Linked DNA regions of Homo sapiens. The protein of the gene in region 1 interacts with the protein of each later gene in a biochemical or structural test. Each region holds a gene or a part of one and is shown on either strand. Other genes may lie near its edges.

Region 1 (3,751 bases):
AAAAAAAAAAATAAAACAAAATAGTAAGGATGGAGAAGTCTTCACCAAGGAAGTCAATATTGAAAAAGATGGGAAGATCAAGTGAAACATTGACATTCTGATAGGATCAGGAAAAGCTTACAAGAAACAAGAACTTTATTGGCAAAATCCTGGAGATTGAGGAATGGAGTTTTGTTCCTGAAATGGCAAATGTTTTCTATTTCTTGGGTGTTGAGCATAGGTAGAAGCTGCCCATTGTTCATTGATCAGATGTGCATACTTTGAAGGTATATTGTTCTGTTGATTAGCTTTTGAAAGACTTGTCCTCTTTTCCAGATCTGTCCGTTTCAGATGGTACCAGGGATTTTACCCTGCCGGCTCTCAGCCAGTGACATGGGCCATTGATAATGTCTACATCGGTCCCCAGTGTGAGGAGATGTGTAATGGACAGGGGAGCTGTATCAATGGAACCAAATGTATATGTGACCCTGGCTACTCAGGTCCAACCTGTAAAATAAGCACCAAAAATCCTGATTTTCTCAAAGATGATTTCGAAGGTAGTCTTTTCTTACAAATTCTATGTAGTCTTGTGAAAGAACTTATATGTTAAACACAATTTTTGGTAGATAACTAATCATTAAGTTTAATTCTAATATCTCATTATTATTTCAATTGTGAACATCCAAGAATTCATTTAGTTCTGAATTTATAGGGTTCCATTTTGGAAACAATGGTCAGTGAGTGAAATACTGATACATGCTACAAGACCTTTATTGAGAAAAACTAAGGCTGTGTTCACAACTTTTTCTACCACATGTAATTTCTGCCTAATGACAATTTTAGAATATATCTATAGAGACTTAATCTTGGATGGAAGGGTTTCCAGAAATATAAATTCCTGTTACTGCTTTACCACAAACTGCTTAAATAGCCTCTCATCACTTTCTATAGTTTAGTTTTACACCTAGAATTCAGTATCATTATGTGTGAAGACAATGTTACAACATAGTAAAATGCATGTAATGTAATGATTAGAAAAAAGCATTTAAATTATATATGCACTTTGATCAAACTGTGGAAAAACACCTCCATAAAAGAAAGTCTTAAGTATAATAGCCATCTATATTAGGGTAGTGGGATTAAAAGATTTTCTTTCGGCCTGGTGCAGTGGCTCATGCCTGTAATCCCAGCACCTTGGGAGGCTGAGGCAGGTGGATCACGAGGTCGGGAATTCGAGACCAGCCTGGCCAACGTGGTGAAACCCCATCTCTACTAAAAATACAAAAAAGCCGGGCACGCTGGCAGGCACTTGTAATCCCAGCTACTCGGGAGGTGATTCGCTTGAACCTGAGAGGCGGAGTTTGCAGTGAGCCGAGATCACACCACTGCACTCTAGCCTGGGCGACAGAGCGAGACTCCATCTCAAAAAAAAAAAAAAAAAAAAAAAAAAAAAAAAAAAAGATTTTCTTTCTTTTTGCTCAGTTTTTGTAAACTTGTTCTATTTATGGTTTTACAATACATTTTAAAACTAGATCTAAGTATATCCATACAGTGGAACATTACTCAGCCATAAAAAGGAATGAAATACTGATACATGCTACAACATAGATGAAACTCAAAAACATGCTAAATGAAAGAAGCCAGACACAAAAGGCCACATATTATGTCAATCTGTCTTTATGAAATATTCAGAATAAGTAAATTCATAAAGACAGAAAGCAGATTATCATTTGCCAGCGTTGGAGGAGGGGAAAGTGAGGGGACAGTGACAGTTTAACAGGCACAGGGTTTCCTTTCGGGCTCATGAAAAAGTTCTGGAACTAGGTAGTAGTGATGGCTGCACAACAGAGTGTATCAACTAAATGCCAGTGAATTGTTTACTTTGACGTGGTTAAAATGGTAAATCTTATGTGATGTGTATTTTACCACAATGAAAAAATAAATAAACGAAATCGGAGTATCTGAACAGATTTAAGAGCTGGTTTTTAAAGACAGTATTTTATTTTATATTTTATTTTATTTTATTTATTTTTTGAGATGGAGTTTTGCTCTTTCACCCAGGCCGGAGTGAAGTGGCACAATCTTCGGCTAACTGCCACCTCCGCCTCCCGGGTTCAAGTAATTCTCCTGCCTCAGCCTCCCAAGTAGCCAAGATGACAGGCACCTGCCACCACACCTAGCTAATTTTTGTATTTTTAGTAGAGACAGGGTTTTGTCATGTTGGCCGGGCTGGTCTCGAACTCCTGACCTCAGGTGATCCACCTGCCTCGGCCTCCCAAAGTGCTGTGATTACAGGTGTGAGCCACCGCACCCAGCCTTAAAGGCGTTATTTAATAGGCAATAATAAATGGTATTGAAATTTCTCCCACTAAACTGTTTTTTTAAATATTTTGTTGTCCCTGCCTGATACTATCCTTACATTAGAGAGGACACAGTAGAGAGGCTGGTGGAAAGGCTACACAGCCCCCACCTTCCTGATGGCCTGAACTACTCTCTGACTAACCAGTGTCCTTTTTTTCAGTGTGAACAAGCCGAAAGGAGGGATCCATCTAGCTGGACCATAGATACTCAAGAAAATACCCCCTCCTCCTATCACAAGAATCTTTAAATTATTCCAGCCAAGGCTAAACAATTCAAACAAGCTGAAATGTTGAAAAGGCCTCTTATCCTAAAACATGACTTTAATATTTATGACTTCATATTTTGAAACTACATAATGCATTTACCATACTCCTTTTAAAAATATAATACAACTCACTATAGTTGGGGTCATAGGTAAACCATATTTTCCAATTTTTTCAGGTCAGCTAGAATCTGATAGATTCTTATTAATGAGTGGTGGGAAACCATCTCGAAAGTGTGGAATCCTTTCTAGTGGAAACAACCTCTTTTTCAATGAAGATGGCTTGCGCATGTTGATGACACGAGACCTGGATTTATCACATGCTAGGTAATCATTTTTAGATGCTGTTGAAAAAAACCACATCGTAATGTATAATAGCAGAACATAATCAAATCAGAAGGAAGCAGAGCGATTTCAAGGACAAGGCCTTCCATTGTAAATACTGAACTTCTCTCTTTATCAAAGCTTTCAGGAAGACACAAGTTACATAATTTCTATTCTAAAATTGAAAGAGATTATTCAATAACTTAATCAGAAAGGAAACATACCTAAACAGGCAAAAATTAACATCTGGTATTTTATAAGACTGAGATTAGGAAGTAACAATGTTTAATTTACTTTAACTTCAATAAAATATTGTGTCTTCTTTATCTTTCTGTATAACATACTTTTCATTAGCACTTGCGCTATGTAGAAATTATTTACACTTATACCATGCTTAGTAGAAAGCTTAGTTGAAATGCAGTATATCTTCAAATTATTCATAATTAATTTTATCTCCGCCAGCAATTTAAGTTAAAAACATTTGAAGGGCAGCCTTATTCTTTATAAGCATCTTTCCAATGATTCACTCACACATTCTAAGCAGTCATTTTCTAAATTGAACACAGTCACTCAGAAACAAACATTTTAAACTGGCTCAGAGGATTATGTCCTGTCAAGATGTGTATCCCTTGATCATTTGATGGGCCGAAAACTTAACAAGGAAGATAAAAAAGATGGTTTAACATGTGTAAAATGGAACCCTGACCTAATTTTGCAAGTGAACAAAGAAACCATGTTTTTGTCTTTTGAGATATTTCAGAGTATCTTAGAATACATCTTAACATTTTTACCCCTTCTTTTTCCCAAATACTTCATTTATTGATC
Region 2 (3,751 bases), on another chromosome or scaffold:
TGACGGCTGCTTTTGTGGTTGGAGAATGGGGCTAAGTCTAGGGGACTGGGCACCTGGGCTTTTTGGGGGAGAAGAGCCTCGGTTATGGGTATACAGGGAGCCAGGGCACACGCAGCTTGATGCCTGGGTCCCTCCCTGAGTCCTTCCTACTTCCTTCTGATCAGCCACATCCCTTCTCCCCATGAGTCCCCAACAGCAAAACTTCTCAAGTGCCTTGGGTAGGGATGGTAGGGAATAGACTTTAACATGTGAACATGTTTTTACCACTTTGATCCTAATTGCGTCTTACCCTGTCTCTGGTGCTTTGGCTTAGCAAGACACTCAGACTGTCCCCATGGATGAATTGGCGACCCCACTCCTGCCTGCATTACTCTCTCCCTCCCCTAGAGGTGACACCTTCCTCTGCCTTCTCGCCCAGCCCATTTTCGCCTCCCCAAGCACTGCCAACCTCACCACTCCAAACTAGCCCTATCCCTACCCACCCCCCTTGGTTGGTTTCATGCAATCCAACCCTCAGCTGAAAGCCATTCTAACCAAGCCTTTGTCCCAATTCAAGTCCAGTCATTCTCCAGCCTTCTTGTCAACTTTTGAAGTTTTTTATTTTTATTTTTTTTGGTTTTTGTTGTTCAAATTTCCCTTTTACAGTAAAACTACTGAGGTGACGGCATACCCCGCCACCATGGCAATATCAACTTCCTGTTCCCCAGAAGGAGCGATTAGAAAAATCAGGAAGGAGCTGGGAACTACAGCACCAGAGAGGTGAACTTGACCTCTGGTGGACAAAGCAACCATCTTGGCTGGTGATTGAGGTGGCCAACCTGGTGCCCAACAACAGCTTTGATCTAATAAAACTGAGCTGGGAGGAAACTGAGGCAACACCCAATTGCACACTAGAGGGCAGGAAGAGGTATCAGCTGGTCACTATGGAAACAGTGGCCTTTGCTAAGTACCACTGTCAGCTAGACCAGCCAGTAGGCCACCATTTTGGTCACTAAGAAGGGAACTGTGTTGAGTCTGAAAGGAGTCAGAAATGTAGGATGGAATGAACAAGACAGCCATCTGGGTTACTCGGGAGAGCACATGGGTTCTTGGGGTAGTCCTGTTGATTAACAGAGATTATACTGGGATATGGAAAGGAAAGAACAAGACAAATTAGGCCTGCCACAGCACATGGCAGTCATCTTAGCTGTCCTAAAATCAGCACAGAGCACAAGGGAAGGGAGATCTTGGGAAGTGCCACTGAAGACTGGGAAAAGTCCTTCTCGGTCCACCTCTAACCTCTTACAGTCAGTAAGTTCCAGCTTCCTCCTGAAAGGAAGTTCTTCCCGCCCTTCTTCTCCACAGAATAAGAACCATCCACCTCCCACCTCCTGATCCCCCAGACTAAGCCACTTGGAGTTCCAGCCAGACCACTTCCTGTTTCAGAAGTGCTACTTCCTGTCCTGGATGAAGGCACTTCCAGTTCCTGCTGCACTGCTTCTGCTACTTCCCAGGCCATTTCTGTCCGGGCCTGGTCACCTCTTGTCTGGAGCAAGTCACTTCCGGTCCCAAGTGGCCCATTCAGCATCAGACCAAGTCCATACATGTCCCGACCGGTTCATATCTTGCTATTGGCCACTGGACAAAACGGGACACTTCTTCTCATGGTAGCTGTCATGACCCAACCACCCCAAATGGCTGGAGTAAGTATGTAGAGGCCTGGGCCAGGCCAGAGAATGGAGCCCTGCTGCCCATGGCCTGAGCTGGGGTGGAGTGTCAGAGCCTTCCCCATAAGGCCCCCATTTTTGGCAGACTGAGGGGAGTGGTTGGTATGAGAGGTCAGAAGGGGGGCTGAAAGCTAAGGGGAGAAATGCTTTGATGCCCCCACCCAGGAGATGGGAGAGGCACAGGATAAGAAGCCAAGAGGGTGAAAGGAGATGTGGGGAGGAGGATGCTAGGGAAGAAGAACAGACCTAGAGACGGAAGAGAGGGAAAGAATAAGAGATAGAGAAGAGAAAACCAGTGAGAGGCAGAAAGAAGGCGGTGCCAACCAAAAGGTGGGCTGTTCCCGCCCCTAGCTCTGGGTGGGTGAGGGGGACAAGGATGCCTGGGTCATGGTCAGAGAGGAGGCTGAGCCTGTGCCCCTCCCCAAGGAAAAAGGATCCAGGGACACTGAGACAGAGGGGGGCACCCATGGCCAAACGGGAGGGCAGGAAGTGGGGCAGTGGGAATCCTAAGGAATCCTAAAAGTGGAGACGAGGACAGCAGCCGGGAGGAGTGAAGGGGCTGGGGGGGCACAGGGGGCCGAGATGTTAGAGGTGTCCCTCAAACCAGGAATTAAACTGGAGGAGCACCCCAAGAAGGGCTGGATTCAGGATAGCCACGTGAGAGGAGCCCTCATACCTTGTAGTAGATGTTTGGAGGGCTCTGGGGGGGCCCATCCTGCACGATATACACAGGATGCCCATAGTCACCACTCACCTTCTCATAGTGGGGGCAGAAGGGGGGATCTGCAGCCCCGCCACCCCGCAGAGCTATCCCTAGCTCCCCAGGCTCAGCCTCCCGAGGTCCCATCCCACCTCCACCCCCCAGGCCCAGAGACCCTCCCCTCCCGAAGGAGCCAGGACCAGGGTGGCGACTCTCCGAAGGCTTGGCCCGCCGTCTCCGCCAACACATGGCACCCCCAGCCCCTGCCACGCCCAGCAAGAGCAGCGCCAGCCCCCCTGCTGCCCCAGCCACTGCAGGCATGCTGGGAGGGGGCAGGGGGCCTTCAGCACCCCGGGAGGTTGCATTGCTGGTGGGGTCACCTGGCAGGGAAGGGGTGAAGGAGGAAAGAGGGGGAGGGACTGAAGGAGCCACCTGGGCACCTGGACACCCAACCCTGGGGGTCCCCATGGGCTTCCCTTGTAGCGCCCAGGCCCCTTGGGGACCCCATCTCTCCTCCCCCTCCGAACTCTGCTCAGAATCCAGGTGTCCAGCCCTTCAGCTTCCTGCCACGGAGTCCTCCCCACTTCTCTGACAGCACTGATTGAAGCACTGACTTGGCTAATTAGTTCTAATTGAGTCTTTTCCTCATTTGGTTTCCATTCCCCTCCCACCCTCCCATCCTCTCTTCTCCTCTTTCCTGTATCACCGCCCCCAAAACTGAAGAGGGAGGGAGGGTGACGGCAGGGCAGCTGGGGTCTGAGAGCAGAGGAAGCTGGGGAAGGCAGGGGCCTAGCCCCTGGTTCCTACCTGGCAGGTTCTCCTTCCCAGGCTCCAGGCTGTGGGCTGCCCCTCGGTCTCTTTCCATGGGCATTTCAGACACAGGTTTTCGGGGGACAGCCCCTCCTCGGGGACCTGGAGATGAGGAAGACCCAGAGAGGGGCTGAGACAACTGCCCCAACCATGATCGTACTGCCCCAACGTCCCTTCGTGCCCAGGAGGTGTCCCCCAGCCCCACTCACTTTGTCCCACTCGGAGAAGCACCTTCATGCCTCTGGTTAGGCACACACCTCCCTGCAGGCTCTCCAGGCCCTCCCGGGTCCCATCCGATGTGGCTGGGAGAGAAAAGCCAGAGGAAGAGGTTGGCACTCCAGAATCTAGCCCTGATTCTGGCCCCACACCCTGGTGTGAACACTGCCTGAGGGCACTGGGATCTCCCTCTTGGCTGCAGGGGTCCCCCTCCCTCTCTGCTCAGTATCAGGAGCCCCCCACTCAATCGTGCCCTCTGCCCAGCAGTACCAATGATGTAGTAATCGTGGTGCGAGCGGAACTCGTGGCCCCAGAGATT
Region 3 (3,751 bases), on another chromosome or scaffold:
GATGACTGGATAATGTGTGCCTGGAAAAGGTCTCCCTTGCAGCTGAATGCTAGCTCCAGAGATCAGAAAGATTTCTTCCTGTAGGAGCCATAGGAAAGAGTCCTCTCTAAGTTTTTGAGAATGCATACAACCCCCTGATGACAGGGGGTCGCTTTCCTTGGGGAAGTTTTATATTTATTTCCAGAGGAAAGTTTGAATCGGTAAATATGATGTGGCAGGAAGGTAATCAAATGCATTGAAGTTTCACATCAGTTCCTATGAACTGTGGAACAATTCATTTGTAATGAAGCCGCCATCAGTAATTAGATTTGTTTCATTCAGAGGTCAGCTTTTTTAGCAGGTGGTCGACACAGGGAGCATGCAGCAGCTGTTTGGATACAGGGTCCAGAAAACCCTTTGTAAATTCAGCGTCTCCGTAACTACTTTAATCACATTGTCGGCTCTCCCGTCCCTGACTGTATGTAATAATGGAAAGATGTCCTGCGTGCTGAAACAGTAGCTGCCCTGTTAGGTTATTCACATTGCTTTGATACGTTCTGGTAGAGTTGGGTCCGTTGTAGCCATTTTGGTTGTTTAAAGTTTTGGTTTTTTTTTTGTTTTTTTTTTAATTCAGCAGAGAACAGTAATGCCTAGCTTCCGTTTTTAACTTAACACTTCAGTAGAACATTTTCTTCCAAGAGGGAGATTTTGGCCTAAGTAAAGTAGTGGGCTCTTTTTTAAAAAAAAATTAATTTTACTTTAATGTGAGCAAATCTGTATTGGTATGGTGTTCTGCAATGCATTACACTGACTTTGAAAATTTCGAGTACTAATGCCTTATGTCTGGGGTTACCATTCCCTGTGCATCACATACTAGTTAGTTAACATAGCATTTTGCTTTTCCCATGTAATTTTTTCCCTATATAATACTGGATTCCTGATACTAATTGACTTGATACAAAAGAATGGCTGGATGATATCCAGATAACGTATAATACATGGGCTTCACCACAATCAGGCTCTGAATAAATACAGACCTGTCAGAGATTGATAAAATAAACTACAATGGATAGTGCTGTTTAAACAGTCCATTCAATAACATATATAAGCCAGCCTGCCTTCCATTGTGTCTGAAATTCTTATTTTTGTAGGTAAACAAATGCACATTCAGCACTGATTGAATAGCCCCTTGAACTATGCTCCACAGTTTGCGTTTGGGTTAATCTTGTCGGTTTTAATATAGAGAGAAAAAAGCTCAAAGCACCAGGGGTGGAATTGTTAGTGCTTTCACATCCACATTCCTCACATTTTGTCAGGATGATAAACTGTAGGTAATGGACTGTCGTTGTTCTGCAGGACAACTGAGCCAGGCAGAGCACAAAGACTAAGCTAAAGCGATACCTCACAACATGCTTGGTAGCCTTCTTTTCAGATGAGAATTTATTTGAGAATCATGTGTCTAGGGACTGCACATCTTAACCTCAACAGTTACAGCTTCAAGCCCCAGAAACAGGAGCTGGAGGTTAAGATGATTTGCTAAGCACCTGGTTCTAAATCTTTTACAAAGCATAAGCTGTTGACGCTGGTTCTGCCGACGCAAAGACATGCAGATGACTCCAACATTTCCAGAGGCTTCTGACTTAAGCTAAAGTGTGTGGACAGGTGAATTCGCCATGGGCCTGGAGACCAGCTTGCTAAAAACTATGTGTTTGAATGGTTCCTCCAGACAGAGTCAGCTGAAGAACAATTGGTGGATTTATATTAAAACCTCTTGTCTGTAAACTTACTGAGGTGCATCCTTCGGTTGGTGGATCAGTGAGATAATTGCCTTCAGATGGACATTGCAACTGGAGCAACTAAATCCTTGCTGTCTTTCCTTCCTCTGAAATCTTCCAGGTAGCTCCCGAGAGCTTCAGTATGACACCAAACTTCGGGCGACGTTTTAGAGTGCGTTCACCTAATGGGAAACTATTCGAGATCCCAGCGTGACTGCAGTAATGCGTCATAGGAATGGGAGTGGCAGGGGAAAAGGAAATACAGATTGTAGACCCTAATAAAAAAATTTTTAGGAAAGATATTTCTTTAACGTTTTATGAGAACTTCATTCTTAAAATACTTAATTGCAAATTAGACAAATAGAAGTGCTCTTCTAAGGAAGGTGATTAAACTGGTCCTCCTATCAGCCTAATCTCTGCCTGCCTTTGCTGCTGACATAAAGAACCTGTTTTTCAGGTCACTTAATATACATCTACATAGATTTGCTTATGAGCTCACCCTTTGTGTAGCGGAGTAGAGCCTTAAAGAGGAGTGCTCAACTGTTTAAAATATTTTGATTAAAATATGCAGAACCCATAGAACTATAAGCTTCTAGTCAGGAATTAGCTCTTTCAGGGAACAGCTCCCCCCTTCTTTTTAAGGGGGGAATTAGAAGGAGGCTGGGGGAGGAATATAAGAACAGCAAAGAAGGAAGGATAGCAAATGGGACATGTTCCGAACAGCTTGGAAAAACTCCTGTGGCTTCATTGTCTCTATAAAGCCAAAGAATACAAAGACATAAGCAATTCAGCCCTTCTCCCATGATGGAAGATGTAAACCGTTGACATGCCTCCCCTGTTTAACTTGTTTAATTCTCATTTTAAATTCAGCACGATACTAGCCGTGTGAACTCTGAAGATTTCTTTAGTAATCCATTTTGTAGTTCCGAATCAAAAACAAAGTGAAAGGGTCTGACACAATTTGCTTTTATTTTTAGGCAAATCAACCCTGGTCATAGTTAATAAGGGGATTACAACTCAGACTAGGTCTTTACAGATGTGATGTAAATCAAGGGCAGAGTATAAAGAAACTGATCCCTTTTGATTGAAGTATAGTAAAAAGGCATAGAGAAACTAGCAGCAGTAATCTGATTGTATGGCAATAAAACCACCATTTTCTGTCTTTCAGATAAAAATAATGTGGTAAATCCATGCAGTTCATAAGATGTAAAGGCAGATAAAGGGTGAAGCCATGGCAACATATAGATTAGCTTGATGTTAGAAATGACACGTCTCTGAAAAGGGCGCGGGACGAAGGCCCTTGCCTCCAGGCTGTTGGGCATTATGTGAGAACCACACAGACTTGGAAACTGGGATTAGGAAGTATGAAAGCTCTACTTGTGGTCTGGGATGGCTGAGGCAGTAAAGAAAAGCTGCTCAGTTCTTGCTCATTGGTGGTGGATAATATGGCAAAGGTAGATTTCATTGACTGCCTTTTTTATAGATTGAGATTGGGGCTGATTAAAACTTCAGATCACTGCAGTTGTTAGGGCCTGGGAGATTTTCCTTTTTAACTCCTGGCCTAACAGCAGCAGCCGTTCTGTAGGATTAACTGCACTTCGCGGTCGTTGCCTTAATCTATTTGGGCTTCAGGCAGGGACATGCTGGGAAGGAACAGAGACCAGAGGGGATAGGTAGGGCTGGGGTTATCTGAAAAGAAAACAGAGACCTTTTGATTTCAGCCATCTTTTCAGACCCAGCTCCCTCTCCCGCTGCATGGGAGAAGCAAAGGTAAACAGGACACATTGTCCCTCTCCCTCAGCCACAGAGCTCTTCTGTGAGTTTTGTCTTTCCCACCCTGGAAAAAAAGATAAAATACAATTTTTAAAAGGGGAGGGAGGAATTTAGTTTTAATTCAAATGAGTAGTAATCCAATATGCCAAAAGCAGTGGGCTCTACCTAGATGTAATTTTACTCGTAAATGTGAGTCTTAAACTTTGAGTTGAATGGGGCAGGCT

Evidence for each region.
Region 2: the proteins of RELN (region 1) and EFNB3 form a complex in vitro, tested with the Homo sapiens proteins (one study listed by BioGRID).
Region 3: the proteins of RELN (region 1) and EFNB2 form a complex in vitro, tested with the Homo sapiens proteins (one study listed by BioGRID).

What each region holds. Positions count from the first base shown.
Region 1 is NC_000007.14:103,541,909-103,545,659, reverse strand, and holds part of RELN (reelin isoform a precursor), read left to right. Parts: intron 1-315; coding exon 316-536; intron 537-2,781; coding exon 2,782-2,929; intron 2,930-3,751. UniProt on the Homo sapiens protein: Extracellular matrix serine protease secreted by pioneer neurons that plays a role in layering of neurons in the cerebral cortex and cerebellum by coordinating cell positioning during neurodevelopment.
Region 2 is NC_000017.11:7,708,202-7,711,952, reverse strand, and holds the end of EFNB3 (ephrin-B3 precursor), read right to left. Parts: coding exon 3,703-3,751; intron 3,519-3,702; coding exon 3,426-3,518; intron 3,319-3,425; coding exon 3,214-3,318; intron 2,787-3,213; coding exon 2,377-2,786; 3' UTR 581-2,376; downstream 1-580. UniProt on the Homo sapiens protein: Cell surface transmembrane ligand for Eph receptors, a family of receptor tyrosine kinases which are crucial for migration, repulsion and adhesion during neuronal, vascular and epithelial development.
Region 3 is NC_000013.11:106,528,912-106,532,662, reverse strand, and holds part of EFNB2 (ephrin-B2 isoform 1 precursor), read left to right. Parts: intron 1-607; exon of another isoform or gene 608-3,751. UniProt on the Homo sapiens protein: Cell surface transmembrane ligand for Eph receptors, a family of receptor tyrosine kinases which are crucial for migration, repulsion and adhesion during neuronal, vascular and epithelial development.